Regions from separate parts of the Homo sapiens genome. Here all the other regions are linked to region 2. Evidence: fine-mapped expression QTL. A gene starts in region 2. Each other region holds a variant in brackets. All regions are shown on one strand. Distances are from middle to middle. Region 1 overlaps CRIM1 (cysteine rich transmembrane BMP regulator 1). Region 2 holds the start of CRIM1 (cysteine rich transmembrane BMP regulator 1). Region 3 has its middle 87 kb from the start of CRIM1-DT.

Region 1 (10,821 bases), 120 kb after region 2:
GTTAAATTAGGCCCCCAGTTTTCTGGCCATCAAAGTGAAAAAGGAGATAGGGTCAAATACGCTGTTCTTATTTTCAAAGAGGAAAAAACCTGCTGGATGGGACAACTGTCTCTCTAATAGAGATTTTTCATATGGAAAGGAATGGATTTCATCCCACTGAATGATGAAGTTGATCATGTGCTTAATTGCGTTAACACCACAAATGCAGAAACTGGTTTCCTGGGATTGTTCTCAATAAAAAGCAAAGGCAAAATATTAAAATACAACTCAGTTCCAAAAGGTCAGATTGACACAGCTAGACCGTAGGTGCTTGGAACATTGTTTCTCAATTTTGCAAACTGCCCAACCATGGTGAGGTAGATCCAAAGACCCCAGTTCAGAAGACTGTGGGTAGAATGTTAACATGACTGACCCCACATGCAGAAATGGATTATGCACTGCCGCACTCACTTCCTATGCTGCCATCCATGTGATCCATATGCTTATGTTTTTTTCTTTTTAAAATCAACTTTAAAGTGAAAACATACAATTTTAAAATACACAGAACTCGAAAACTCGTGAGTTTTGAAAACACTAGCCTGATGAGTAGATGCAGAGAGAGCATCCTCCATAAATATTACTTTGTTTTTGTAGTTTGATTTTATTTTGTTGTGGCGGAGGGATGGGAGAGTTGCAGACCAGTTCATGACAGTTTGTAACTGCATTCTCTGACAAGCGCCGAAAGGAGAACTTATGAGGCTTTGGCTGAACAAGATCCTTGTTATTTAGAAACCAAAGGAACAGGTGGTATGATTATGTTTCTTTTATGTGAACTTAGAAGTCATCAAAATCATCACCTAGAAATATGACCTCCAAAGCAGTGTTGTAACAGCCCTCCACCTTCGTCAAGAACCCACTGTATGTCTGCTCCTGCCCACAAACAAATGTCCCATCAGCCGTCAGCTGGAGCTGGACAATGGCCTCTACTGTTAGATGGGTGGATGCTCTCCACTTAACACAGTACCCCCTGCTGTCTTACACATGGCCCACCTCTCGTTCCTGGAGGCATTTGGGTTTGAAATCCTAGGTGTAGAGTGTGCAAGTGATTATTTGGTTTCTTAGATACGAGCATTTGTCCAACGTATATACACAAACATCTAGATAAAATGGAATATCTTGGTTGGAAAGTCGTAGCCAAAAGCTGACTCTGTCTGTATGACCTACTTATAAAACGTTCCCCAAGTGAGTAAATGAATTAGTCTATAGTATTGTTATTGGATAGAAGCCAGTTGAAACTACCAGAAATATTTTTAGCCTTACGGTATTTAATACTGAACCATTTGTTCTGACAGCATAGTTAGCAGGGCCAGATATATATTGAGGCTAGCCCCCATTCACAGCTCTAAACAAGTCATCAGCACAAAAGAGGAAGAGTACCCTCTTCCCAGTGGTGCCAAGAGTGGTGGGTGGATGGGGTGGGGATGGGAGCATTACTTGTGTATGGCACAACTAGCCAAAAGCAACTTCAGGGGGTTATGAAGTAAGTTCAGAGAAAGGGGATCTGAATACAACTTAGCGTGTGTTTTTAGCCTGTTTTGTGCCATTTGAAATACTTCTGTTTTGGAGCACTGTCCCTGTAGCACTCTGCTTCTCACAGCAGTATTAAAATGCAGCACTAACAGTGAGGAGCCTGGATGAAGGTCATGTTGCCCACCCAGTAATTAGTTCCTGTTTTATTCAGGCATATACGAAAGGCTAATAAAAACTGGAAGTAATCTTATGTTGGCCCTGACAGAATTTTCTCTAAGACAGTAACATGTGAAATCACCATTTAAAGGGGAGCCGTACCCAGCATCAGCTTGCTCCTCATGTAAAATTTTGGCCTAGAAAATTCAGACCTGCAGGCTGTTAATTTTCAAAAAAAAACACTAGTACAGAAAACATTAAGAACCCACTGTCTATATAGCAATTATGCTCATAATGTTTCTAAGGACGTAATGTCTTCTACTGATAGAATAATGGAGATATTCTGGCACTTTGAGAGCAATACTCCACTCAGTATGTGTTTATTGAGCACCCCTCGTGTTCCTGGGGCCTTGTTAAGCTAATTTTGTTAAAGAGTGATACACATTGTTGTAATCCTTTCTAAGGGTTGTTCTCTTCCCCTTTTCCTGAAATAGGATATGCTTGGTGTCCTCCAGCACACACACACACTTCCCCTCTTCTCCCTGTGGAATAAGCCAATTGAAACTAGCAAACATATTTTTAGTCTTATAGTATTTAATACCGAGCCATTAATTATGAGAGTATAGTTAGCAAGACCAGATATTTATTGAGGCTAGTCCACATTCACAACTTTAAGAACATGTCATCAGTATAATTAATAAAGGGAAAACTTAAGGATTTAAAAACACACAGAACTCAAGAACTCCTGAGTTTTGAAAACACTAGCCTGAATGAACAGATGGAGAGAACATCCTCCATGAATAGTCCTTCTCTTTTCACTTTGGTTTTAATTTGTTTTGGTGGAGGGATGGGACAAGCTGCATGTCGAAGCTGCAGAGAGTTATCTAGAAGATTTAGCTATGAAAAGTGATGAAGGTGGCTACACTAAACAACAGATATTCAGTGTAGAGGAAGCAGCCTTCTATGGAAAGAAGATGCCACCTGGGACTTTCATAACAAGAGAGAAGCAGTCAATGCCTGGCTTCAAAGAATAGGCTGATTCTTATTAGGGGCTAATGCAGCTGATAACTTTAAGCTAAACCCCACGGCTGTTAAGAATTATGCTAAATCTACTCTGCCTGTGCTTTATAAATGGAACAACAAAGCCTGGATGACAGCATGGTTTATTGATTATTTTAAGCCCACCATTGAGACCTACTACTCAGAAAAAGAGATTTCTTCCAAAATATTACTGCTCATTGACAATGCACCTGGTCTCCCAAGAGCTCTGATGGAGGTGTACAAGATTAGTGTTGTTTTCGTGCCTAACACAACATCCATTCTGCAGCCCATGGACCAAGGAGTCATTTCAACTTTCAAGTCTTGTTAATTAAGAAAAACATTTCATAAGATTAGCTGCTGTAGATAGTCATTCCTCTGATGGATCAGAACTAAATCAATTGAAAACCTTCTGCAAAGGATTCACTCACCATTCTAGATGCCATTAAGAACACAGGTGATTCAGGGGAAGGTGTCAGAATATTAACATGGAGTTTGGAAGAAGTTGATTCCAACCCTCATGAATGACTTTGAGGAGCTGAAGACCTCAGTGGAAGAAGTAACTGCAGATGTAGTAGAAGGAGCAAGAGAACTAGAATTAAATGTGGAACCTGCAGAATGTGACTGAATTGCTGCAATCTCATGATAAAACTGGAAAGGATGAGGAGTTTCTTCTTATCGATGAGCAAAGAAAGTAGTTTCTTGAGATAGAATCTACTCCTGGTGAGGATGCTGTGACAACATCTTCACCAGATAAAACGACAACCAGGGATTTAGACTATTACATAAATTTAGTTGATAAAGCAACAGCAGGGTTTTAGAGGATTGACTCCAGTTTTGAAACAAGTTCTACTGTAAGTAAAATGCTATCAAACAGCATCACATGCTACAAAGAAATCTTTCATGAAAGGAAGAGTTAGTCAATGTGGCAAACTTCATTATTGTGTTATTTAAAGAAATTGCCACAGCCACCCCAACCTTCAGCAACCACCATCCTTATCAGTCAGCAGCCATCAGCATCAAGGCAATACCCTCCACCAGCAGAAAGATTACTATTTACTGAAGGCTCAGATGATCGTTAGCAGTTTTTAGCAATAAAGTATTTTAAATTAAGGAATGTATATTGTTTTTTAGACATAATGCTATTGTATACTTAATAGACTATAGCAGGGGTGTCCAATCTTTTGGCTTCCCTGGGCCACATTGGAAGAAGAAGATTGTCTTGGGCCACATGTAAAATACACTAACACTAATGATAGCTGATTAGCTTAAACACACACACACACACACACACACACACACACACCATCTTACAATGTTTTAAGAAAGTTTGCATTCAAAGCCATCCTAGGCCTCATGTGGCCCGCAGGCTGCAGGTTAGACAAGTATGGACTACAGTACAGTGTAAACATAACTTTTAAATGCACTGGGAAGCCAAAAAGTTTGTGTGACTTGCTTGAGCTGGTCTGGAACTGAACCCACAATATCTTTGAGGTGTATCTATCACCATCCACCAATCAGTGTAGTTTGGTAGGCAGTAGCATGTACTAATAGTCTATATTACAAAATTCTCTTTTAGGAGTTCTGAAGTATATTCAAGAAGGAAGGGAAGATCCCAGAACTTAGAAACTTAAAGTTTAATTTTGCAGACGCAAAACACATACAAAAAATCACTAAAAAGGCACTTCTGTGCTTCATATTGAGAAGTACAAATTACACAGTAAATTATTTCTTCATAACACTTTTCCACATCCACTTAAATCATCCTTTTGTGGAGATTGTGGCAATCTCCACACTGTTCTGAGATTCACATCTACCCCTGATAGGTGAAGAAGTAATTGGTCATTGCTCCTCAAAAACCACAGGTAGCCTTTTTATCATATACTTTTCTTAAGAGCCTCTATAAATCTCTTTGAACATCAAACAGATTTCATTGTGTTGTGTGACTTTTTTCACCCTTAAAGATTGATTGTGTTTCCAGGCTGTGTTTTTAGGATTCTCCATCTTTCTCACTTCCACTCCCTTGATCCTTGTGCTTTTGCTAGTGAAACCTAAGTGCCACAGTTCTCTCGTCAGTCCCATCCCCTCCTGCTTAAGCTTCTGCACACCCTACCATAAAAACAAGTCCACTTGAAGCAGCTTTATTCATAACCAGAACCTGCCCTCCACACTTCCTCAGATCATGCACCAGGGTTGTGGCTTCACCCAGATGGTAGCTGTGGTTGATCAACTCAACCAAATAATTAGTATTGATTGGTTTATTTTTTTTAGTTTCCATGGATGTTCATTTTGTTAGAGTACAGTATTTTGCCTCGCTCTACAGCCTGCAAATTTAATGTATAAAAGTACTCCGTTTTCTATACTTTTTGGAACTTATAGTGTAGCTGCACAATTCCTTTCAATCCCAACTCAGATTAGTTTGTTAGCTAAAAGTATATAGAAGAATTCTGAGCCATGGTAAGATGATTCTTTTTTAACATTAATTTTCTGAAAAAATGTTGTATCCATGTAGCACTAAGGAAGGAGTTTAAACATTCACATGTAGTACGTGTGCACACATAAAATCACTGCCTCATTCATGTGACTTTAAGCAAATCACGTCATCTCTTTAAGTTTCATCTTCATTATCGAAAAAACTGGTACTAATAATACTCGTTCTGTCTTCTTAGCGGGGTTGTTATAAAATAAATATAAAGTAATTGTCCTTGAGTACAATGCAAATGCAAATATCCTCCAAATGCGGTGAAAGTATTTTAGACATGCAAGGGGACATATTAAATGATTTGGGGATGGACAGAAGAGCCCTTGAAAGATGGGGATATCATCATCCAGCTTTCACCGGCAGATTGAGCAGGGCTCATCACCTCAGGAGAACTTTCTTCAGCTTGGGAGTACTTTTTTTAAAAATAGCTTTAGGAGACACCATGCAATTTACCAACTTAAGTTGTGCAATTCTGTTGTTTTCAGTGTATGCTCAGAGTT[C/G]TGCAATCATCAACACAATCAGTTTCAGAACATTTTCATCAAGCCATCAGAAAACTCCTGAACTGATTGCAGTCACTGCCCATTTTCCCCCTAAGCTCTCAGATCTAGGCAACCACTAATCTACTTTCTATCTCTATGGACGTGCCTATGATGGGTGTTTCATATAAGTAGAGTTATATAATATTAATACCTTGTCTTTTGTGACTGGCTTCTTTCACTTAGCATAATATTTTCAAGTGTCATTCATGTTATATTGCATATCAGAACTTCATTTCTTTTTATGGCCACGTAATATTTTATTGTATAGATATACTACTTTTTGTTTATATATCAGTTAATGGATATTTAGGTTCGTTCTTTCTTGGCTCTTGGGCTGCTAGGAACATTTGTTTATAGTGCTTTTTTGTGGGTATATATTTTCATTTCTCTTGGGTATATACCTAGGAGTAGAGTTGCTTGATGATATGATAACTCAAATTAAGGAACTCACAAACTGTTTTCCAAAGCAGCTGTGCTTTTACATCCTCACTAAAAATCTATGAGAATTCCAGTTTCTCCACATCCTCATCAGTGCTCGTTACTATTTTTTAATTATATCCATCATAGTGGGTGTGAAATGGTGTTCATTGCAGCTTAGATTTGAATTCCCCGAGTGACTAATGATTCGAGCATCTTTTCATGTGTTTATTGTCCATTTCTGTCTTATTTGAAGAAGTGTCTGTTCAAAGGTTTGCCCGTTTTGATTAGATTATTTTTATCGTTTAATTATGGGAGTTCTCGGTACCAGTTTTTTTAAATCAGATATATGATTGCAAATACTTTCTCCCAATCTGTAGGGTTGTCTTTTTACCTTTTTGATGGTGTCCTTTTAAGTCCCAAAATTGATGAAGTCCAGTTTATCTGTTTTGTTCCTTTGTTGCTTATGCTTTGAATGTCACATCTAAGAAACCACTCCCTAATCAAAGGCCACAAAGATTAACTCTTATGCTTCCTTCTAAGAGCACTGTAGGTGTAGCTGTTGTATTTAGATCATAACTCTATGATTCATTTTGAGTTAATTTTTGTATATGGTGTGAGGCATAGGGTTTTCTTCTTTATTCTTTTGCATGTAGATAATGCAAAAGACTTTCAACCTCAGGCCTGGCATGGTGGCTCACACCTGTCATCCTAGCACTTTGGGAGGCCAAGGTGGTTGGATCACTTGAGGTCAGAGGAGTTCAAGACCAGCCTGGCCAACATGGTCTTTACTAAAAATACAAAAATTAGCTGGGCATGGTGTCATGCACCTGTAGTCCCAGATACTTGGGAGGCTGAGGCAGGAGAATCACTTGAACCCAGGAGGTAAAGGTTGCAGTGAGCTCAGATGACGCCACTCCACTCCAGCCTGGGTGACAGAGTGAGACTCTATATCAAAAAAAAAAAAAAAAAAAGACTTTGAACCCCACTGAGTCTTGGCCATCTTGTCAAAATACCTGTAAATGTGATAGTTTATTCCTGAACTCTCAATTCCATTGAACTATATATCTATCCCTGTGGCAGTACCACATAGTCTTGATTACTATAGCATTGTATTATGTTTTGAAATTAGGAAGTAGGAGTTCTCTAACTTTGTTCTCCCTTTTAAGATTGTTTTGGCAATTCTGGGTCCCTTGCATTTTCATATGAATTTTATGATCAGCTTATCAATTTCTACAAAAGAGCCAGCTAGGAGTTTGATAGAGATTGCATTGAACATGTAGATCAATTTGGGGAATATTTCCATTTAAACAATGTTGTCTTTCAATCCATGAACACGGGATGTCCCGTTTACTTAGGCCTTTTTAGTTTTTTGAAAATGTTTTGTTATTTTCAAAATACAAGTTTGTACTTATGTTATTACATTTATTCCTAAGTATTGTATACTTTTTGATGCTATTGTGATTGGAATTGTTTTCTTCATTTTCTGATTGTTCATTGCTAGGGTATACAAACACAATTTGGGGAGTTGCAATTGTACTCTGCAACCTTGTTGAACTTGTTTATACATTCTGATAGTTTTTTAGTGGATCCCTTAAAACTGTTTACATACAAGATCATGTCATCTGCAATTAGAGATAGTTTTACTTCTTCCTTTCCAATCTGGATGCTTTTAATTTATTTATTTTTCCTAATTGCTCTGGCTAGAATTTTCATTACTATGTCGAATTGAAGTGGTGAGAACACACCTCATTGTCTTGTTCCTGATCTTAGGGGGAAAGCACTTGGACTTTTGCCATTAAGTATGAGGTTAGCTGTAGGACTTTTGAGGATGCCATTTATCAAGTTGAGGAAGTTCCGTTCTATTCCTAGTTGGTTGAGCATTTTTATCATGAAAGAATATTAGATTCTGTCAGATGCCAAAAACTGTGTCTATCGAATGATCATGTTGCTTTTTTTCCTTATTGTGTGACATATCGTATTAACATTAATATTTTGGATGTTAAACCAACCTTGCATTCTTGGAATAAGTCTCACTTGGTCATGGTGTATAATTTTGTTTATATGTTGCTGGATGTGGTCTGCTAGTAATTTTTTTTAAGATTTTTGTGTCTACATTTATAATATACTGATCTGTAGTTGTGTTTTCTTGTCTTGGTGGGAGTTATTTTAAATCAACTAAAATTAAAGAATGAATGTAGGGAGAGTGTTTCAAGGCAGAGAAAAATTTAAAAATCATTGATATCGTGATGAGACTTCTAAATATGGGACTATGAGTCCTCAGCAGAACATAACCCTGAAGCACAATGGAAGGAGCACAAGGTTTCAGTTGAAGAGCTACTGTTTTGGCTTCTGTCGTTTGCTGTGTGACTTTGAGTAAACTACCTAGGATTTCCTCACTTTTAAACTCAGGATAATAATACCTATGTCAGACCTTCATTATAGGGATTAAGTGAGGTGATACATATAGAGAGTATTTTGTTAAAGGCCAAACACTATTAAAATTATACGTGTTTATACCATGTACAGAGAAAAAGAATTTAAGAGAGAGCACTGGGGGAACAGAACATCACCACTTCAAAAAAGACCATAATAAAATTTTTGAAGCAGAACAAAACCTAATGTGGAGGCAGGATCATTCATTTGAGGTAGACAATGATTTAACCAAACAAATAGAATCACTTTAAAGCACATACCAGATATGTGAGTGTCATGGTCATAAAGTTTAGCTTTGTCTGGGATGGAAGGAAGTCAGTGTAGATTTTCCTAGGGGGAATTTCTGTTCCTTGGTGTAAACTGGATAACAGTGTGTTTTATTTTATTTTGTTTTGCTTCACTTTATTGTTTTCTGTTACATGAACTTACATTGAGTTGAGTAAATTTCCATCAACTTATAACCTCCTATTAGAAATTTTCTAGAGGCTGTTTGAAAAACATCAAAGGACACAACTAAAAAATGACTACAAATATGCCTTGTTTGTTTTAACTCTTTTCAGATACAAAGCCAGCCTGCGTATTTAACAATGTGGAATATTATGATGGAGACATGTTTCGAATGGACAACTGTCGGTTCTGTCGATGCCAAGGGGGCGTTGCCATCTGCTTCACCGCCCAGTGTGGTGAGATAAACTGCGAGAGGTACTACGTGCCCGAAGGAGAGTGCTGCCCAGTGTGTGAAGGTAAGAAAAGGTGCTAATTACAGATTAACAGGAGCATACATGGTATAGAGTTCTAAAATCAAAATCGTCCTAATTCAGTCTCATCCAAAAGTAAAGGAATATTGAAGTTCCTTTTTTAGCCTTTTTTAAGACACCATGGTCTGTCTTTTAGCATGTTAAAGCCAGGTAGAGTGTGTGGAAACACTTCCCTAAGGGAAGCTATGCCTGGGTGTAGACAATGGGTCACCTCTTTCCACAGGCAACGTGAGATGTCCCAGAGTTGTTTTCCGTTCCTCCCCTGCAGTTCTAGCAATTCCTCAGCAAGTCCTAGGGCAAAGCTTTATCTTCACCCTGGCATTAGAGCTCACCACCTCCTCACCTCAGATTGCTCAGTTAGGATAATGTGGGCCTCACCCTGACAGTCTCAGCCTGCCGGCCCAGAGAGGAACTAACTCTGCCACTGTCGTAATACCCAGGACCCTCCAGGGAGATCAGGGACCTGCTACTGCTTCTCTGAAAATATGTGGTGGTTCACATGGGGTCGTGGTATCAGGTCACCACCTGGTGACACCAACTCAAGGCCCAGCCAGGTGTCAGGTGTGACTCTCAGGAATCTGCTTTGTCTGGATTCCCCTTTTCTCTCCAAGAAGTAATATGTTCATGTTCCTTCAACAGGCTGCATCTTCCCATCACTGATGTTCATAAACAATAAGCATTTCAAAACAGTTGCTCTGAATATCACTCCCTGCAACCCACACATTTTACAGATTAGGATGTTGAAGTTCAGAAGAGAAAAGTCACTTGCCTGTAAAGTCACTTTACACTGCAGCCAGTAACAATAACCCCGTGCCTGACTGTGTCTATAGTGTTCTTCTGACAACACAACACTGTTTCCCCAGAAAGGAAGGTCTTGTGAGCCTTCCTGTCCTAACCAGGCCCCAGATCTTCAATCTGAAGTCGCATGTGTTAATCTTATGCCTGATCTCTGCACACAAAGTGGGAGGGCACAGTGTCATGCCACTTTCCATACTTCCTCATTTTCATAAAATTTTCTCCTTTTGATATTTGAGCAATATTTACAACATAATATTGAAGATCTGAAAATGTTTAAAGTATAAAAATTGCATTCCTAACATAGTTCATAACAGTGAGTTCTTTTCCCTACTAGAGGTTATTTTACCCAACATAGGAGAAAAGTAGTTTATTTTTTAGGTGATGTTGACAATTAAAAAGAATTACTTCAAATTTTTAACCTTTCTAATTGTTTTGTTCCCTACCTGCCCCCAGTCTGCAATAGTTCTGAAACTGTGCAGCAGTTGATGCTGTAAAAATGTAGATACGAACCTCTGTGTAGTCATCATACTGAGTTGTCTGGGCATGGATCCAGTTATGTCTCACTTCCTGGAATTCAGATCCAGGCTCAACGTAGAAAAATATGTATTCTAATACTTTTTACACAGGAATTTAAAAAATCTTCTCTTGCTCAGGTCCATTGGCCGCCTCCCTCTCTGGCAGACTGCCT
Region 2 (10,821 bases):
AATGCATGACCGGGTCCTCTCTTCTCATTTTCTTATACTTGTTTTTTCCAGCTTTCCAAAAAATGTCTGTAAGCGCAGGATAAATTTCCTTAACCTGTGGAGGGTCTCGATAATTTATTCCCTTTTATTAGTTCAGTTTTATAAAAAACACTCCTTCCTGGGAGAAATTTTTAATTGAGTACATAACACTTTCTTTAAAAACCACACAGCAAATAATTTGCCAGGTTACATGATTTGGCAATTTGTAAGGTTAAAACATTTGGTGATCCACAGCTAAACTCTCCTAATGTTGAACATTTTAAAGGATGGAATGAAATAATAAATGTGAAAGGAATTTTTTATGTTAAAAAAAATTTTAAAGCTTTACAATGTAAGGTGCTTTTAAAGCAAGAAGAAATGGTTTTTAACCTGAAGGGCCTCTACACTGGAGAGATGGGAACTTGTATTAAGTGTTTGAGGAAATTTGCGTGAATAAGTTTCTGGAAGGCAATCTGGCCATGCATGTCAAAGTGGGCATAACTTTTGACCCACAAACAATAATTTCACTTTAGGTATTTGCCAAGGAAAATAATTGGACAAGTGTTTGAAGATTTGGCTTAAAGGAAATATATTGCAGCTTTGTTTATAATAGTGAAAATGTAAAGCACACAAAACCCCTAAACTTATGTTAATATGGAATCAGTTAAATATAATGCAATATGTACATTCAGTGGAATAACAATCAATGGTAAAAAGGATGCAGTTATTGATTCTAAAGATCAATATGCCATGTATATGTGAAAGTTAAAGCCAATTTTGAGGTAGATACATATCCCATTTTATATTTTATACTGTATGGGGAAAATAAACCTTCAAGGATGTGTCACAAATGTTATCAGTGGTTTTATCTCACCTGAGATAAAACCATTATAGGTGATGTTTTTCTTTCTTCTTTTTTTCTTTTTTACTTGTCTGTCTTTTCTCTTTTTTCCCCCAGTGAGCATGTATTTGTTAAAAAACATACATTAGAAGTAATATTGCATAGAGTGGATTCTGTCCCCATACTGCCTAGGTTTGAATTCCAATTTTTCCTTTACTGGAAAAGTAAGAGACAGTGTGTCACTCTGTCACCCAGCCTGGAAGGCAGTGGTGTAATTTCGGCTCACCTCAGCCTCAACTTCACAAGCTCATGCAATCCTGCCACCTTAGCCTCCTGAATACAGGCACATCCCACCATGCCTGGCTAGTTCATTATTATTATTATTTTGTAGATATGGGTTCTCCTTATGTTGCCTAAGCTGGTCTCAAACTCCTGGGCTCCAGCGATCCACCCAGTTTGGCCTCCCAAAGTGCTGAGATTGCAGGCATGAGCCACCGCACCCACCCCAATTTTTCCTTTTAAATAGGTGTAAATGTACCTGTAAAATGCAGTACCTACCTCATCAGCTTTTATGGAGGATTAAATGTGGTAATATTGTAAGGTAATTAAAAAATATGCACATGGCAAACGTTACATAAATATTTGTTATTCAGTAGTTAGGAAAGCAATGATCTTATTTCCATTTTGAGAAAACGCTGATCAGTATTTAAACTTCTCAAAGAAGACAAGATATTGTCATAGATGTTAGCAATTTTAAATGAGGTCCACAAAAAACAACAAAACTGAAAAGAAAAGCAGCTCACCATTACCCAACTTACTGAATTGAGGTAGTTAAACACACAGGCCCTTAAGGCAGAATAGGACTGAGTTCTAAGCTTAATATCCATACACATAGCTCTGAGACCTTGACAAGCCACACAACCTCCTATAACTCAGATTCCTCACCTGTAAAAAATGAAGACAACGTAAGGCACTAGAGATAATAGAAACCATTGGTCTTACAGCGCTCTTCCGTAGATTACTTAAAATAACCTATATGAAGCACTTAGCATGTTGACTAGCAATTAATAAGATCTTTATTAGTGTCAGCTATTACTATTATCATTACCAATTACTGCTCTTTAAAATAAGTCAGAGACCAAAATGAGTCTGAGAAAATATCACAGAGGCTAAAACCCCAAGATGAGACAGACTGTCAAAACAAGGCCAACAGAAGATCCTAAGAAAGAAAAAAAAAAAAGCAAATATCTGATCCAGCAGATGTTGCACAGCAATGGATGCTAAGATAACAGAGAGCAGGGATTCCAGCTCAAGCATAAAACTTGAGGAGACACTCAATTAGAAGGACTCTAAAAATAACAATAGAAAAGGAGAGCAATCATTTTATCCACACGATACCCTGTATGGTTGGTATTCTTGTCTCTGTTTTACAGAGAAGACAGATTCAGAAAGGATAAATACCTTGTTTAAACTTGTACACAGAGAGAGAGAGAGAGAGAGAGAGAGAGAGTGTGTGTGTGTGTGTGTGTGTGTCAGGATCCTAGGCCAAACATCAAAGAGAACCTGTGTTCTGTGCAGATGTCTTGTAAACCTTGTGGTAGTTCTGCAGCAGCTATCATTCACAGGCAGAGTAAATAAGAACCCACTTAGCAAAAATAAGGTATTACGTGGTGATAATAGAGTTCAATTTCAGATTAAGAGTCCAACATCCAGATGGTTGAGCCTCCAAACTAGGGTCTGTCTATATCACTGCAGTGCCAAGCCTAGATTAAGTGAGAACCCATATATAGGTGATCCCAGCTGAGGAGACCAGAGAGATGGCCTAAGAGGGTAAAACGGGCCAGACCTGCTACCCTGGTTTATTCGTACCACTTTCTAATATGTATGCAACGTTTTCATAACACAATGAGGTTTCTTCTCTTGTGCAACTCAATTCCAAGAGTATGTGAGTCAAACTCAAAGGCAACTTCTACATTCTTCTTTTCATTTCAGGAAGAGAAAATACAAAGTGCAACTCAATTCCAAGAGTATGTGAGCCAAACTCAAAGGCAACTTCTACATTTTTCTTTTCATTTCAGGAAGAGAAAATACAGAGTGTGACTATAGGTGGACTAGACACTGTATCGGAAAGGCGGGGTCTAATACTAACATTCTGTCTATTGCCCTCTCATTTCCACTTTCTGCTTAGGCCAACAAATGGGCACTTTGATTTTCGACATTTTCAACAATTTATTAATCCCCAGGATGGCCAATAGAGGGCAGACGATCTCTTCTTCTAGACCTCCATCAGAAATACTTCGTAATTCCTGGTTCGTTGCAGACCTGTTCCCCAACCCCTCCCCCACCCCCCCACCACCCCCACCCCAAACTTCGATGACTCCCTCCTGCCCATACCATCCCTTTCAAGTACTGATTTTGAGGTATTTACTAAAACCAAGAGAGAAGGGCTGCAGACAATAATATTCAAATATCATTTTGACTGTAATTCTTCACTCTCCCTTTTTCAACTCATTCATGCATGCATTTTTATAAATCCTGCCCTCTCCAATAAGCTGACAAGCTAATTGGGTTCAGAGTTATTTAAATAACTATAATGTAACATGATAAATGCTACAAGCAGAGGTACTTACAAATGCTGTAGAACAGATAAAGAAGCTCAAGAAGGCTTCTCAGAAAGGGAGGCCTTTCATGTGTGGCTCTAATTCTTAACATTCGTTCATGACTTTCAGGGTCCATTCAATTTCAGGGTAATTCTTCCTAGTCCACTTTCACCCGTGACACCTGATTGTCATCATGTTGGGCTCACCCAAACTCTTTCTGTAACCATAGTCTGGTCTTTGAAGATAAGAAAATACTTTTGTATTCGAGCCTCAGTATCATTGCCTCAGCTTCTCACTACCTCATTATCATCCCTCCTGGATCCCAGAGAAGAAAGAGCTGTTTCATAACTGAGCTCCTGATTCACACACTGGTTTCAGAAAAGCTGCCAGGACCTTGCAGGTTTCTCATTCGCCACTAGTCACTGGCTTCAAGGAATCCTATTTTCTCTATTGCTTCTATGACTATTAATTTTATGCCAAAGGGCATGTGTAATGTAACTTGATTTTTTTTTTCTTTTTGAGCTGATACAATCATCTTCATCTTAAAGAATCTCCCTAGTCCTTTCTAAACCTGACTTGAATTCCTGTGAGAAGTCAACCTTTCTCATGTTGTATCTGTCCATCTACCTTCCAGGTGGTTCTACTTCTGAAGTCCCAGGAACAATGAATAGTCATCTCCAAATTATCCTTTGCCTGTGCTCATCTGTAGCTTTCCTTAATCCTTAATATATCCCCTTAAAAATAAATAGAAGCTAAACTTTGACAATGCTTATTACCTCCTTCTTTCCTAACCACAGTAGCTTTCTCACTTCTGCCTTTTTCTCATCACCTGACCTTGGCTTTTCCTGCAGGTCCTACAATGTTATCTGCTACATTTTAATGTCTTTATACTTGCATTTGAACAGAAATACAGATAACCTCCTCTGCAAGAGTGGGAGGGACCTTTTAACACAGAGCAATGATGACAGTTTGTTGGCAAATCCCACACTGAAGTGCTGGTGCCTTGTTCGGTGACAAGAAAGAACAATGTTTAACAATGTGTGTTTTATTTTTCTTCAGTTTTTTTGTTTGTTTGTTTTTGAGACAGAGTCTTGCTCTGTCGCCCAGGCTGGAGTGCAATGACGCAATCTCGGCTCACTGCAACCTTCACCTCCTGGGTTCAAGTGATTCTCCTGCCTCAGCCTCCTGAGTAGCTGGGATTACAGGCATGCGCTACCACACCCGGCTAATTTTTGTATTTTTGATAGAGACAGGGTTTCACCATGTTTCACCATGTTGGCCAGGCTGGTCTCGAATTCCTTACCTCAAGTGATCTGCCCACCTTGGCCTCCCAAAGTGCTGGGATTATAGGCATGAGCCACCACGCCCAGTCTCTTCGGTTTTTCTAATAGAAAACCTAGCATATTTTAAACGATTTTGCCACTTAACACTTATTATGGACCCACAGGGTATGAGGGCCTTTGGAGATCATCTAATCGGACTTCCCACCCAACTACAGGAATCATTTCATTGCAACAACTCTTTAAACCCGTCTAGAAAATGCAATGCTCTCTCCCCTTTTCCACGGTTGAACATCTTCCTCATGGCCCTATAATAATCAATGATAATTAATGAGCCTCTTCCTCTCCTTGGACAAAGAAATATGATAGGAGAAATGTTTAGTTTGCTGATGCCCATCATGGGGGAATAGTCCACTGGTAACTCTGGCTTTTGGGTTCAGGATTAGACAGAGTGGTTAAACTAAAATATTTATCGTAAGTATGAATTTGTTCCACAAACATAACATTTCAAAGGTAGCTTTGTTTCCTCTTTCCTTGCACTGCCAGCTATTAACTTTCGGTTCATTAGTCACGATTTTCAGAATCCACTTGGCTGCCACCTTCCTGCAGCCAGACCATCTTGGATCAGAGGGTGGGCCAGCCATTCCCACGTCACACCTGCCACGGGATCGATTTTTTCCCCCATTGACCACAGTCACTTTTTGTCAATTAATTAATGTTATTCACCTGGTACCCATCTTGTGAATGGTAGGTCACTACGGAGCGGATTACTACTTCATATCCCATCAATGACAGAGCCATCATTACGAAAACCTTTTCTGACAACCACTGAAGAGAAACCATCTCCACACCGTGCATTTTGCATCACTTCCGTTGCTTCTTTACCTGATTTATCACAAAGACTATGTACCACACATCTTCTTTATTAATGCATTGACAATCAGTGAAGACAATGAAAACCCACCACTTTTGTCCGTGAACTGAGAAAGAAAATGGCAATGTCATATGGCATTAATGATGCATGAGATCTATGGGTGTAGTGTCACGTCTAGGCGTGTAGTAATCCAGTCTTCGGCCTTACTCCAGGGAGAAAGATTCAGCTTTGTTACTTTCCAGTCACTCTCTCCCGTAACACAGCACCTTGGCACAGAAAGCAGAGCGACAAAACCCAGAATGAGGACAGTTAAAATTCAACTCAAGCTACAGCCATCCCAACGGTCCTCCCCAGCTCCCGCGGAATATTTACCAAGACCGTTTAAAGCACTTAATTAATTCACTTCAGCTTCGCTGGAGAGGTCTCAGGGTTCCCGAGACTCCATTACATAATATCTTTCACAAAGTCTATTCCCAGCTCGAATGGAAGATGGATTCTCATCCAGTGTGCGGAGGTTCCATGCCTTTGCTTCCCTTTCCCGGAGTTCGATCCGGCGATACCCTCCCGAGGCTGCAGCCATCGCCCCGGCCCCGAGCTTCTGGGGTACCCGCCACTCTTCGAACTCCAATCTGGCCCCGAAGGTGCAGCCGCCTCGCCCTCCTGGCTCCCAGGCCGGCCGCTGCGGCCACGGTGCCAGCGAGCGCCCGGGACACCGCGACTCTCGCTGCTCGCTGGGTGCGCCCCAAGCCCATCCGCAGCGCACCCGCGGCGCCGGGGCCAGAGCCGCAGCTCGGTGGCACGGCCGGCTCGGTGCGCCGGGCTCGGGGAGGAGGAGATCGGGAAGAGGTGGAGGCGTGTGAGGGAGGGAGGAAGGGCCCGGCCGCCCGAGAGGGGGAGGGGGAGGCGGAGGGGGCCGGCCGGGCCGGGGAGGGGGGGCAGCCAATGAGCGGCGCGCGGCGCGTGGGGGTGGGGGGAAGGTCTGGGGGAGGAGGTAGGATGGGGGAGGGCGCAGCCCGAGCGGCTGAGGCTCCAGCCATAAACAAGCGCCCGGAGGAGCGGCGCAGGAGTGAGGCGAGCGGGGCGCGCGGAGCGGACGCCGCGGATCTTGTGCTGCGCCACCGCGCCCACTCGGCAGCTCGGGAGGCGGGGACCGGCCCGGAGGCTGCGCCGCTGCGGGGCCGGCCGACTCGGAGGAGGAGAGGGAGGAGGCGCCGCCGGCCCGGGCTGGAGCCGAGCGCAGCAGCCACCGCCGCCGCCGCGCCAGAAGTTTGGGTTGAACCGGAGCTGCCGGGAGGAAACTTTTTTCTTTTTTCCCCCTCCCTCCCGGGAGGAGGAGGAGGAGGAGGAGGGGAAGCTGCCGCCGGCGCCAAGGCTCGTGGGCTCGGGGTCGGCGCGGCCCGCAGAAGGGGCGGGGGCCTCGCCCCGCGAGGGGAGGCGCGCCCCGGGGGCCCCGAGAGGGGCGGTGAGGACCGCGGGCTGCTGGTGCGGCGGCGGCGGCGCGTGTGCCCCGCGCAGGGGAGGGCGCCCGCCCCGCTCCCGGCCCGGCTGCGAGGAGGAGGCGGCGGCGGCGCAGGAGGATGTACTTGGTGGCGGGGGACAGGGGGTTGGCCGGCTGCGGGCACCTCCTGGTCTCGCTGCTGGGGCTGCTGCTGCTGCTGGCGCGCTCCGGCACCCGGGCGCTGGTCTGCCTGCCCTGTGACGAGTCCAAGTGCGAGGAGCCCAGGAACTGCCCGGGGAGCATCGTGCAGGGCGTCTGCGGCTGCTGCTACACGTGCGCCAGCCAGAGGAACGAGAGCTGCGGCGGCACCTTCGGGATTTACGGAACCTGCGACCGGGGGCTGCGTTGTGTCATCCGCCCCCCGCTCAATGGCGACTCCCTCACCGAGTACGAAGCGGGCGTTTGCGAAGGTACGGCCGCCCGCTGCGGGCCCCCTCCCACCTGGCCTGCGCCGCCCCCTCGGCGCTGGTTGTGCCGAACAAAGTTTGGGCGAGACTTTCTGGAGGAAAGAGGGCTCTGCGGGAAGAGGGGCGGCCGCCGCCCCCAGGAGAGTGCCCCCGCGGCCCTGCGTTCCCTCTCCTTGTTCCCCCCGACGCTTAGGCAGTCGCGGGCGAGGTTGGGTATGGTGGGTGGGGGCGAGCGAGTGGAGGATCGCCCCTGTCCCCGCGCAGACGCGCACACGTGTGGCCGTTCCTGCTGGGACTGGGTGGCCCGGCCTTGCTCCCCGAGGTGGGGGCGCCGCGGGCGGGGGGCACTGCAGATTCTGCCGCGCGCGAGCCCCTCGGGGAGCCCGGCCCTACCGCCCTCCCCGCACTGGCGCAGTGTGGCACCGTGAGCCGCACGCCGGCCGCGAAAGTCCTTTTTCTGTTGGCGGAGGAGACGTGTCTCCAGCTCGCACTCCCCGAGTGACTCTTATTATTTTTTCCTTGAGCTCTTCCTTCACCCCTTCCTCCTCCTCCGCAGATAAATCAGTTTCAGCCGCGGAATATGTCAGCCCAGGGGAAGTTACACACGGTGGTTACTCATTTATTTGCCCATTGTAAACGGTCAAAGGCTTTCTCTCCTGAAAGGAAAGGGGGGTGGGGGTTGCACCTGGGAGTAAAAAGTTGTTGCTATTAGTGGCTGCTTTTTAATATCAGATACCCGCGTGTTTCCTGTCGTGTTGCCGGTTCCTCCTTTTTGTTTGTTTGACAGCGGGGATTGTTCTGCTGGCTTCTCCAGCACGCATTGTGCTCCGCGGTGTCGAGATTGACGGTGGGAGAAACAGATTAGATTAGTGGAGTCTTTCTCGTTGGGGAGCCAATGTTAGTGCGTGTTGGCTTTAATCCCTGCCCGCTTGCGTCGGCCTTCAGGGTGCCTGGTCTGGTTTGGGGTCTAGAGCGAGGCAGTGAGTTATTTTGATGTGGCTAACGGGGGCACGGTTCGGTAAGCATCAGTTAAAAGTGGGATCCCTGCTCTGGCTGACGTTGGGCTGATGATGCTGTTCCGGGGGCATCCTGGCGAGTGAGCAGAGCGCACGCAGCAGCCTCGTTTCTGGGGAGGCGGCGAGGAGGGACAGGCGCCCTCTGCCCGGCGTGCCTTCCTCACTACTCACAGCCAGCACCGTCCAGGGAACGGTTTATTCCGAAGCATCTTTGTGTGTGTTTGTTTAGTATGCTGGGATACTGAAAAAGGAGGTGACAGCCTTAAGGATAACAATGGACCTATTAAAAGGCTTCAGTGCTGTGATTCTCTCTAAATACGCACAGACACACACATAGGTACTTATTTATACCTGAATAGTTTGGGGTTTGGACAGTTCAGGAAAATAGGGGAGGGTTTTCTGGTTTGGAAGCTAGTGGGCAGTGATGAGTGAAGGGAACTCTTCTCAGAGGGGAGGGACTTGCTCTTGCTTTGCTGCACACGTAAGACATTGGGTTAGAAGAGATCATTTGCCTGAAGTACAAAAAAGCCTCTCACCTGGTATTGTCCCCTTTTATAACTTGTTTTTATGCCTTACCTCAAGAAAAATGGCCATGAGATTAACTTCTGATACCATTGTATGTGTTTTGACTTTGGGAATTCTGAATGACCTAGACTAAAAGATGCATCTTTGAACCCTGCCGCTTCAAGTGTATAACTTAATCCGGCCTCTCGTAAATCTGAAAAGAACAGGCGACATGAAACACAGTTAAATGCAGTGGAAACTGCTGTGTTCCAAGAAGGACTTTTGCAGGTTCTGAAGATTCTAACCCTTGTTTTGTTTCTTCTTAGTCTGTTTCTGGTGAAGGAAGTGCTCAGGGAACATTTACAGTAATCGAGTGTTGTGGCAGCAATATCCCATGTCACAGTATAGAGTTATTTTGGCAGTTTCGTGAGCCTTTCATTCCTCTGAAATGATGTGATCCCTCATAGCTTCCTTTTTTCTGGCAACACCCTGTGTGCTTGGTATTCGCTTTGAAATGCTTGGAAGGGTTTGTTGACATGATTATATCTCAATTAGTTTCTCTAGAAACACTTTTTATTTTACAGGCCTGTTTTCAACTATCAATATTGTGTGTCCAGGGCACTTCCTTTAAAAAAAAAAATACTGAAAACAGCAGTCAACTTGCATTCTAAATCTGTGAAACCAAAGTAAGGACAGTGTTACCTGGCATGATATAATGGTTGGATTTAGACAGATATTTTCAATCGTGTGTTTACAATTTCAGTGTTTTCACTTAACGACAAGATTTATGGAAAGCATGGGATAAGTGATACCCCAACCGCCCCCCGCCTGCCATTTTTAAAAAAAGAATTAGAGGAGCCTTCAGATGTCAGCAGTTACCTAGAAGGTATTGATTATCTCTTGTTTTTCTGTGAGTTTACAAGAAATTTCGGAATGGCCAGTGTTTCCCTCAGTTTCCATTTTTATTCAGAAATTCACGTGGTGAAGCATGGTTATCATAACTAACATGAATAGGAATCAATATATTTTATTCATGTTGAAGTCTCTTTTGCTGCAATTTTTGCACTAAAATGACCCCTACTGGTTGTATCTGTTAATGAAAACTCTTGAAAACTTATTTAATTGGCTACGTTGTAAAAACATATTGCATGTTATAGAAATATTATCATGACTAATCTCCCTGCTTTCGATGACATAATTTAAATACAAATTATATTCTCTGTTTGCCAACTTGCAGTAATTTTTAGCAGTGTTTACTCTCATACTGGCTTTGTAGGGGAAAAAAATTACGTTTTTAACTGCAGTTCACAAAATGAGTTAGATAAATCATGGGCAGAAATGGGCCCCTTTCAGCTTGTGGCTCACAGCCTTAGGTTTTTAAGGCATGCTGGTCTAGTTGGCTCTCAGTAAAAGTACATTGAACAAACGGAAGAACAATCCTATCCATAGAAAGAATGCTGAAGGAAAAAAAATATTTTCTGAATGATTAAATAATGTGATGAGTTGTGTCCTGTGCACCATGTGAGATGTGCACTTGGATTTCTTTTCCGCATTGTTTAGATTGTTATTAAATAAATTCTAATTGAATTATTCCTTTTGTGGTGGGGGCTGGGGGTGGTAAGTGCATTTGAAAAAATGAGCATGGAGCCTGATACCTAAAAGTTTTTCCTACTTTCTGTCAGTCTAGAAAGTGCTTTTTGGAACTTAGGAGAGTGCAGGTCTTTTTCCTCTTTCCATTCGTCTGCTAAGACCTCCTGTTGCTCTTTGCAGCATCCTAACTGGC
Region 3 (10,821 bases), 86 kb before region 2:
TCCTCCATGTGGCAATAACTGTTAGTGATAAGAGAAATGAATAAACATGAACTATACAGGAAACATTCCTCATTGTCCTTCCACTAAAAGAGGAAAACCACCAGACAGGACTTGTCTATGTAGGTCATTATCTTTCAGCTCTAACAACACCACTGTTGATAAGATCAGAGGTCCAACAGGCCTTCTTCTGATATCTTTCCACTCCTCAGTCAATAGCGCCTCTATTCATCTAACGGTATTAGTCAGGAACCTGAAAGCACCTCAAATATATTTTTCCATCGTTTACTATATCCAGTCTAATTACAAGCCCAGTTGATGGTAAATAATAATTATCTCTGGAATCAAATTCCACCTCGAATGCTACTACTCTGATTCCAGATACATACATCCCTACCTGATTTCAACAATAACCTCATAATTATTCTCCTTAAACCAATAAGCAGAATTAAACCCCATACTTATTTTATTCACACATGCAACCAGAGCGATCTTTTCCAATGTATATCTAAAATCATGGGACCTTCTGCCTCCACCTTATGTTTAAACTCTCCAGTGGCATCTTATACCAAGCTACATAAAGACAAACATGCTTAAAATGGCCTATAGATCCTAATTTGTTGACCCCTGCCTATCTATTAGCACCATCTTGCACATCAACACCACACTGCCCAAACCTATAAATACCAGGGGAATCCTTTTTAATCAATCAACTTTTCCTTATTAGGTGGCTATGGTTCTTGAGTCCCCTTTGCTTCAAAGAGTTGTTTAGCCTGACCAGCATCACTGACTATAAAAGATATTCCATCACTCCTGGTGGTTACCAGGATGGATCTGCCACACAGCCAGCCCCTCTGTTGGTACTATTGCCAAGGTATAGAAAAGAGTATAGTCTGTTTGACAGCTATTATGCTTTGTTTAAATGCAATTTTAAATGCAGGAGTTTCTAAGTGTGTTATTCATGCCAGTGATTTCTGCAAAAAATAAACATTTTGTAAAACTGCTAAAAGACTTCACAAATTGAGCAAAGCAAAGAATTTTTTGCAGGACAAGAGGCAGCAGAATAAATTCTGAGAACTACCTAAAAGAACTACCTAAATTCACTCAGCGATGGGTACTCATTAAAAGTGCAAACTCTTGTGTTTAATCCAATACCTACTATATTAGAATCTCTTGGGGCCAGGAACCTAGAATCTGTATTTTAATAAGTACCTCAAGGTGATACTTTTCCACCTTAAATCAGTGAAAGTCAAATGAGAGAAGAATTCCCAGGATCAGGCCCTCAGGAATATCATTTAGAGGCCATGTAAAGACGATGGAAAGGACGAGAGAGGTTATAAAAAAGCCATCAGAGGCAGAAGATAAGCCAGAAGACAAGTGTCATGGAAGTCAAGAAAATGAGATTTTTTTCAAGGAGAAAGAGGCCAACTTAGATGAATAGTAATGTGTAGACTTGTAAGATGAGAACTTAATGTAACCGGCCTTCAGCTCCCAGCAACTTAAAAGTTTCTGTTTGATTTGGCAACATAGAAATAATTAATGACTTACTGTCACCAATTTCAGTCAAATGCTAGAGATGAAGGTCATAATAAAGTGGGCTAAACACTGATTGAAAAGAAAAACTGAGAACAACCCAGTACCCATCAAAAGGAGAATACACTTGTAAATATGATCAATTCACCCTATGAAATGCTATGTAAAAGTAAAAATGAATTAATTACAGCCACATAGTGCAATGTAGAAAAATCTTGATAGTATGAGTAAAAAATTATGTCTAAGAAGGCTACATTGAAGCAAGTCTTCATGTAATTTCAAAAATAATTAATATTAAATATATATTTTACACATGAATAATTATTTGATAAAATAATTTTAAGGTAAAGGAAATAATAAACATAAAATGTCAAAACTTGTTCCCTTTGATGTCAGTTAGACAGAAGAATGTGTTTTTAAAATCTATTGCACAGCATGATGACTATAATTAACAATAATGTAATGTGTATTTCAAAATTCCTAAGAGAGCAGATTTTAAATGCTCACACACACAAAAAAAAGTATTTGAGAGATAGACATGTTAGTTATCCTGATTTAATCATTCCATAATGTATACACATATCAAAACATCACACTATACCTCATGAATGTATACAATTACTATTTGTCAATTAAAATAAAATAAAAAGGAAAAAAATACTTGGTCCCTCTGAGGGATGGGAATGTAGGGGAATCGTATAAACAAACAGCACATAGAGATAGGTGAACATGTGTTGTTTCATTCCACATGTGTTTATAATATCATTTCTATCACATGTATTTATTATATCATGTAAAAGTAAATACATGGGTTCTGTTTCTGGCATGACAGCCTAAGAAGCTCCATGGAGTCCCCCCTCCCTAATGCTAGAAAAATTGGTAAAAAAAAAAAAAAATTTATGGAAAAAGAGCAACCATTTAAAGTCTCTGGAAAGGATCCTAAGGGCATACATCAAATGAAGAAATATTTGTTCAATAAAATCTACTAAAATGTGGTAAGAACAGCAAGAGCCCGCGGTTATTTCAACCAAGACCTATTCTTCCCTTTCTTTCCGCCCTCTCCTCCCCCGAGCTCTGTGAGATGGAAACTTCTCTCCAGGCTGGGACAGCTGAGAACACAGAGTTTTCTCTCCTACCCAGCTCCCAGTCAGAGGGCTCTGTTCGCAGGAAAGGCAGGGTGTCAGCGTTTCTCATCATTTCCCCAGCTACCTGTTGTTCATTTGAAGTTCAAGGTGAGTATAGCCAAGAGGTGCATGCTCCCTTCTTCTGTCCAGTCCCTACTTATAGGAGAGAGGCTCTATATTGTGTTAGATGCCACTGAAAATACTGAGCCACTAATCACCCTTACCCTGGTTCAGAGGTAGAGTTCATACACAGGGAGAGGCAAACCAAGAAGACTTGAGACCTCTGTCTGCCTCCAATGAGTGCTCAGCTCCTAAAGTGAGAGTGTGACTCAAAGAGAAGCACACCATTGTCCCCCGACTCCAGAGATTTTACCTAAGGGGAGAGAGCAGGCAGAAAAACACATATCCCCTAGCCTCTTTCCCATCAACAAAAAAACTGTCTTCATTATCAAGAGAGTGTGGAAAAATTCAGGCCTAAAAGCACCCTAAGAAACAGTGGAAGTTGTGGTGAAAGGCAACTGGGAGGAGACTGGCAGACGCATTGTACATACAGGCTACGCTGTCAGCTAGCTAGTTTGCCTAAGAGAACCAAGGAAAGAGACAGCTGGGAGGAGCCCTCTTGTGACAAACAATAACAACAACAGCAACAACCTTCAAACATTGAATTCAGAAACTATCCCTTTAAAGGTGATCAAATTTGATTGGGTAAGTCTGTGACACAGTTTATACCCAGGGCATTGTTGAAAACATGAATCAACTACCAAAATTACTGTCATCCCAGAGTGGCTATGACCACACCCAAGCCTGAAGAGCAACATGAAAGGCTTTGGACTGCATGGGAAGAATAGATGCCACTATAGTAATACAGTCAGTCAGTTAAATTTAAAAAAAAGAAACAAAAGAACAATAACAAGCCCCATAAGGGGGTGACCAGTGCTGAGTTGCTATATTATATAAAATGTCCAGATTCAGCAAAAAAAAAAAAATATGAGACATGCAAAGAAACAGGAAAACGTGACCTACACACTGGGAAAAAATCAGGCAAAAGAAACTGCCTGTTGAGAGGAACCAGATGTTAAGTTTAACAGATAAAGTCTTAAAAGAAGCCATTGTGAATAACTTCAAAGAACTAAAAGAAACCACAATTAAACAAGTAAAGAAATGTGTAATCACAAGGTCACATCAAATAAAGAATGTCAATAAAGATGTAACAATTACTAGGAAGGAGGAGGAAGAGGAAGAGGGGAGGGGGGAAGTCAGAATCCTGGAGTTGAAAAACACAACTGAAATGAAAAATTTATGAGAGAGGCTCAATAGTATATTTGAACTGGCGGAAGAAAGAATTAGAAACCTTGAAGATAGATTGATAAAAATTATGCAATTCAAGGAAAAAAGAAGAAATGAAAACAGCTTCAGAAAAGTATGAGATATTAAGTCATCAACACATACATAATGGGAGTACTAGAAGGATTACTACTAAACTATAGTAATCAAGATAAAATGGTGTTGATATAAGAATAAGCAATGGAATTTAGAGTCCAGAAATAAATCCTCACATTTATTGATTTTTTTTCACAAGGCTACCAAGACAATTCACTGGGCAAAAGAACAGTTTTTTCAACAAATGGTGCTGACACAACTGGATAGCAACATGGAAAATAATAAGTTAGACCCCTAACTCATACCATATATAAAAATTAACTCAAATTAGATCAAAGACCTAATTACAGGAGCTAAACTGTAAAACTCTTAGAAGACATAAAAGTAAATCTTTATGACCTCAGGTTTCACAATAGACTCCTAGGTATAACAGCAAAACCTAAATAGCAAATGAAAAATAGATAATTTGCACCTCATTAAGATTTAAAACATTTGTGCTTCGAAGAACACTATCAACAAAGTGAAAAAACAACCCACAGAATAGAAGAAAATCACTGATCACAAATCACCATAAAATACATGATAATAATGAAATTGAAATATTGCAAGAATTACCAAAATGTGATACAGGGACATGAAGTGAGTGCACGCTGTTAGAAAAATTGTGCCAATAGACTTGCTCAATGCAGGGTTGCTACAAACCTTCAATTAAAAAAATAAAAAGCAGTATCTGTGAAGCTCAATAAAGCAAAAATGAGGTATGTCTATATTTGCTTACTGTTCCAACCTTTAAAAGTATTAACTTATTTAATCCTCAAAACAATCCTATGAGGTAGGTATAATTAATTTCCCAATTTTTCAGATAAGAAAAAATGAGGCTTACATTAAATAAACTGCCTAACATCACAAAACTAATATTTGGAGGAGCCACCTCCCAAACAAAGGCAAAAGATGCAAATAAATCATTTAACCTAATCTTAGTATTATTACCTTAAATCATAGACTTATTTATAATAGTCTGTTAATCTGTTTTTTATTTCGAATAATATTCTAAATGAATACTTCATGTGTAATTATTTGTTGTTTTTGTACTTGTAATTCTCAATTAGAAAGTTATTTTACTAGATAAAGCAAAACTTGAATGGTGTACATCTATCTCTCTGACCATTTAGACTATAAAGCAATAGTCCACATATCACCCTCCTCAGGTTGATTAAAATGTGTATTTGTGTATGTTTAAATGTATTCATAAATACTTCTCTTATTCTACAAAGATTTAAAATGACTTCCGGGAAAGAAAATAAAAAATATCAATATATGAGTTAAAAATGTCAAGACAAAAAAATCTAAATTAGATTAAAAGATCAAGCCTCCAGATAGAAGCCTCTGGGCTTCTTGCAGGAGTGACTTTGAGCAGAGCCATGATGTATACATGAACCATTAAGAAGCACATTCTCAGAGTAAACAGGGGTGCACAATATGAAATCTCATACTGATCACATATGCCAGTGTGATTGCAGGGTTTATTTTTAGGAGTTTCATTTGGGGATCTTTTTCCAAACTTCGTGAGGCAGTTTTTCAGTTGTTTCTCATTGACCACTGATAGCTGGATGTGCCATTTTAAGCTTGATGCTAGATATATCAAGTTTACTTTTCTGAGTGTCTTTATAAAATCAATTATGACAGTATCATTTCTCTGATTTAATATGCTTCTCAAAACATTTTTTCTTTATTTTGGCACATTTTTTCTACTGTTTATTATCATGGGGAAATGAATCTGGAGAGCATTTTACACAAAATTGTCTGGTTTCTGGAACTCAATACATTTTATAGTGCTTGAAACATTTCATTGTCCGTGCTGGTCATTTTGCTTTCCTCAAACATAAACTTATATTGATTCATGATATACGATGCTCCTTTTTCATTATTCCAGCTAGGTGCACTTTCAGATTCTTTTTTCCCCAAAGTTTACTCTTCACAAAAGCATTAAATATAGCATGAGATGGAGTTCTGTGACTTTGTCACAAAAGTAATAATTTTCAGCTAAGGATGCAGTTTCAGTTTTTATTATAGTCCACATTCTGAATATTATATTTGCAGATTTGTGTCAACTTTCCCCACGTCTTTTCTCAAGAAATATATTACACTAATGTTGGCAACTTATAAATCTAGAATTATTATGTGTAAAAAATATTCTGAAGAAAAGAGA[T/C]ACTGGTACCTAATGCTATCCTTAAATGGGAACATAATGGAACTATACAAATATTAGTCAATTAAAATTTAAACCTGAAGCTGGAGAACCAAGTGACAAGGGTAAGAAAGATACTATTTTTCCCAGGAAACCAAATAACTTGACTTTAGGTCAACCTTGTGGAATGCAGTCAGGAAAAACAAAATAAGAAATGAGATGCAACTGGCACGAAGACACTGCAGGAAAAAAAAAAAGTGGCTCAGTAACTCCAGAGTAAGAAGAGGATACAGGTACACATTGCCCCTTTATTACATGGAAAGAAAAGCAATAATAGCAAATACCTAAGAGCCATAAGTTTAAAATTGTTTTGTTGAGGATTTTTTTTTCCAAACTGAGTCAAGCCTCACCGCTGAGATGAAAAACTTAGAAAAATGGCTAGTACCTTGAAGAAACTATCTTAAGTGATATCAATATTGTGAATTCCTATTGTACTTATTGTCTAGATACGCTAATTTAACAAAAACATATATTGTCCTGATTTTTATCTGATTGTTTCATACTTAAACACACATACTTACACCTGTATGTTAGTATATTCTAATTTGATTATAAATTTCTTGAGTGGGGAAATGATTTTATACTGATTTGACATATACCAGTTTTCAACTCAGAACAAAGAAGATAGCAGATAGTCCAAAATATTTGTTAAATTGAATTATGATGGGTAAAACATCTGATTAAATGTATGAAAAATGCCTTTCAGGAGATCTGACTTTCAGAAATGTAAAATATAATACACTGTAGCAGCTTCTATTTAATCTCGATTATTCTGATGATGTCTTAGATATATATTTTCATTATAAACTTAAGGGCTTTTAGTTTTTAATTTTTTGTTAAATATGAGGGAAAACGCAGAAAGATTTAGTCAAAGAGGGACTTTTCATTGAAAAATTGTAGACAATCAGTTTGGATTGTTCATAATTTTTAAAAAATCAGCATTCATTGTATACCTCATACAACCAGTGGACATAAAATGATTCAAGTACAGAAACAAGAGCTGCTATACCCAGAAAAGGATTTTAACTGCATTTCTCAAGGGGAGCAATGGCAATCATTCGCTTTCAGCTCTGACCCAACCTAGGAGTTCCTGTTCCATCAAAAAAGCCTCCCCAGCCCGCTAGGCAGGCAGAATGCCGATCATGAAGAACACAAAGACAGCATGCAGAGAGCTCAGAAACAGAGCTTCAAGATCTGAAAACCCAAAAGGAAGTCACTCCCAGGGTGGTAAATTATCAATACTAGAGACCAGCAGATAACAAAAAGAAATCACAGAAGAGCTGCATCCTTTCGACAGGTTAGTGAGCAGTATATTTATAATGTAGATTTAAAGCTACCGTATACCAATGGCCTGATCTTTTTTTTCTTTTTTGTGATTAGTAATAAGGGCCTGGATCTAGAGGTGGGTATAGCCCCATGAAAGACAGCACAAGACAAGGATGGTTTAAGACATACTGAAGATTATTCTAGACCAGGGCCAGCTAAAACAAAGACACAAATTGAGCCCAGCCAGAAAACAAACAAAAATATTAGTTACAAGATATTATTGTTCATCATATACAAGTATCCTGAAGTGGAGGTATTGTAGTGTGGTGGACTGAGTGCACTGAGCAGAGAGAGTTGGCTCAGATCCTGGCTCTGGTGCTTTCTATTTGATCCTGGAAACAGGAAACTAACCATCCTGTGTCTCAGTAGCGCTTACTTCACATGCTGTGAAAATTACATGCAGTTATTTGAAAGCCCATACTCTGGTAAGTGGACAGCAAGTAGTACCTGTTTTTATTATGTTCTTTATCCTGTTGTTATAGTTATTCTTCTTTTGAGACAAATGAATAGGATTTTGTTCATGGTTCTCATTCTCTAGTGTCACTTCAGTTACTTTCAAATATGCCTAAGTTTTCTTTGTAAATCCAGAGTTACAGTTACATCTCCAAAGTCAAGAAGCAAAATGAGTAAGTAAATCCTACTCCATAGAGGTGGCCTAACAAACCAGTGCCTGTTCTGGGATGCCATTGAAAATAATGGCAGGGGTTTTCACTATTTTTCTCAGCCTTTGTCTTGATAATTGTAAGAGTCCAGGAGGCCAGTGATGATTATTGGAAGGCATAGCAAAAGCACCACTGTTTTATTACAATTTTTAGATCCAAGAACATTAGACATCAGAATCTTTAAAATACCCTGTGTAGAGGGTTCAATATAAACTACGTAGTAAATGCTATTTCATCATTGAAGAAAGAAGGAACAGGAAATTATACAGGTCAATCAACTTCAAAATAATCATGTTAATTATTAAATAAAATAATGCGCTTGTTTCTCTTCAAATGATACTAAATAAAGCTAAATCCTAGACTCTATAGTAAACAGCATAATGTGAATTACAGCAAAACACTGAAGATTCAGATTTGACACTTTTAAGCCTCTAATTGACATACCATCATTTGATAAGTGAAGTTGCTCAATTACTGTTACTTCCTTTGAACTGGTGCTACTTTAGAAGACACAATTATCAGAAACGTTTGACTGTCACTGTCACTAAGTATGTGTTATTCACTTTTGAGAAGGGGAGTTAGAAGATCTGGAGCAAAAATGCCAGACAGTCAGCATCACTGAACCCCTTGCACCTCTACACTTTGCCCTCACCTGCTTCCACCTCACTGTCTCCTTCCAGAAGGGAGTGATGTTCCTGCAATGAGTCATTTGGGCTCAGTGCATTGCAACCCTGAACTCTTGGAAGACACTTTTCTCTTCTTGATCTGTTTGGCTTAATATGCGCATCAAAAATGAAATAAAATAAAACAAAAATAAAGAAGTAATATAAGGCCCAAGAGTAAATACTAGACCACAGCTATCATAAAGAAGAGTTCAGCCAGGCACGGTTGCTCACTCCTGTAATCTTAGCACTTTGGGAGGCCGAGGCGGGCGGATCGCTGGAGCTCAGGAGTTTGAGACCAGCCTGGCCAACATGGCGAAACACCAGCTTTACAAAAAATATAACAAAAAAAAAAAAATTAGCCTGGTATGGTGGCACACGCCTCTAGTCCCACATGCTCAGGAGGTTGAGGAGGGAGAATCACTTAAGCCCAGAAGGTCAAGGCTGCAGTGAGCCATGATCGCACCACTGCACTCCAGCCTGGGCAACAGAACAAGATCCCATCTCAAAAAAAAAAAAAACAGTTATGTTTTCTACTGTGTGTACATGTGTGTGTGTCAAGAGGGAAGATTCTGCTGGTGATTTAACTACTCTCTTTAAGTACTATTCATGCAGCTATGTTCCCATAGAACATTCTACTCTGGCTTCAAATTTGTTTACACATAAAAATATGTCTTCAGATTTAATTTGTGATGTATTCTAATAAGCATATATCGAAAGAATCACCTGGTTATATGCCAGTGGAGTGATTACTTACTGCCCAGTTACTTGCACAGGGCCACATTTTTCAGTTCCTGGAAATAGAGTTGGCAACATTACCATTTTTTAGAATTACCTATTTGCCCAAAATAGTGTATTTTTACTATGCCAATTGTAATTTGATAGAGAAAACGACATTTGGTTTCAGAATTTCTCAAATCTAGCAAAGATTTCAAACACTTCTAACAACAAGTTTAAGAACAAGAAAAAAAATGACTAAAATAACTTACTTCCACACTTTCCACAGGTTTCTTGCAGAAGTTAGAACTAAGAAGACTTTTCCTTAAAAACTATTCGTTTGAAAAGTTTGAACGACTGGATGAAAATGATTGACAGAATGTTTCCTTCAAAATAAGTGACTGCCACATATAGCTCAGTGCCATTCACAGGGAAAGCCCTTAATAAATGCCTGTTGATGGATGTATATATTTTAAGTACATATTCCATTAGCATCACTGTTCTACATTCTTTGTACCATAACATTCCAATTAAACATGAAGTGGCAGTATTTTGCAATTGTGGCTTCAGGTTCAATCATTTAGCCAGTCGACAAACATTTATTAAGTTCCTGCTACGCATTTATTTATTCACTCAATGCCTGCAGTACGCCAGGCACTGGCCTTAGCTTGGGAGACTCAACAGTGTATCCAATTGAAAGTTTCCATTTCCTCCAGAAATTTGCAGACTGCTGATGACAGAGAAGAAATAAACAAGGAAGCAAATAAATACATTTGTAAGACTATTCAAGTATTGCTAAGTGCATAAAACCGAATAATGAGATACAGTTTGACTTGAAGGAGAGGGAAGACCCACTTTAGGCATCAAAGACAGAAAAAGTTTCTCTGAGAAATTGGCTTCTGAAATCAATATAGTTAGCCATTCAAATACTTAGAGAAAGAAATTTCCAGGTAGACAGAAGAATTGGGGTAAAGGCATGGAAATGAGAATGATTTTAGTTACATCAAGTAACAAAAAATATATAAATGGCTGAAGAAAATGATAAGTATTTTGATTTCATCTTAACTGCAATGAGAAGACATCTGAGGATGCTCTTAAGTCCAGTTTATTAAAGAATCCTTTGCCCACACACACAAAGCACTCACTTTAAGGATACAGTTAATAAGTTTTAGCAA

Evidence for each region. PIP is the estimated chance that this variant, and not a neighbour inherited with it, causes the effect. A credible set is the group of variants that fine-mapping cannot tell apart.
Region 1: its variant is the best candidate, but not a certain one, in a credible set for the expression of CRIM1 in monocytes (BLUEPRINT, PIP 0.58).
Region 3: its variant is the best candidate, but not a certain one, in a credible set for the expression of CRIM1 in whole blood (INTERVAL, PIP 0.72).

Annotation. Positions count from the first base shown.
Region 1 is chr2:36,467,752-36,478,572 of GRCh38, forward strand. CRIM1 (cysteine rich transmembrane BMP regulator 1) reads left to right here. Exons shown (of 17, transcript NM_016441.3): 6 at 9,138-9,320. Among named protein-coding and RNA genes, the nearest start is that of CRIM1, 120 kb to the left of the region's middle. RefSeq lists a silencer at 8,675-8,969. The variant C/G (reference allele first, on the strand shown) is at 5,686.
Region 2 is chr2:36,349,103-36,359,923 of GRCh38, forward strand. CRIM1 (cysteine rich transmembrane BMP regulator 1) reads left to right here and starts at 6,676. Exons shown (of 17, transcript NM_016441.3): 1 at 6,676-7,521. The coding sequence starts at 7,191. CRIM1-DT (CRIM1 divergent transcript) reads right to left here and starts at 6,468. Exons shown (of 2, transcript NR_037631.1): 1 at 5,986-6,468; 2 at 5,647-5,879.
Region 3 is chr2:36,263,506-36,274,326 of GRCh38, forward strand. No RefSeq gene overlaps it. Among named protein-coding and RNA genes, the nearest start is that of CRIM1-DT, 87 kb to the right of the region's middle. RefSeq lists enhancers at 7,053-7,678, 7,679-8,303. The variant T/C (reference allele first, on the strand shown) is at 6,244.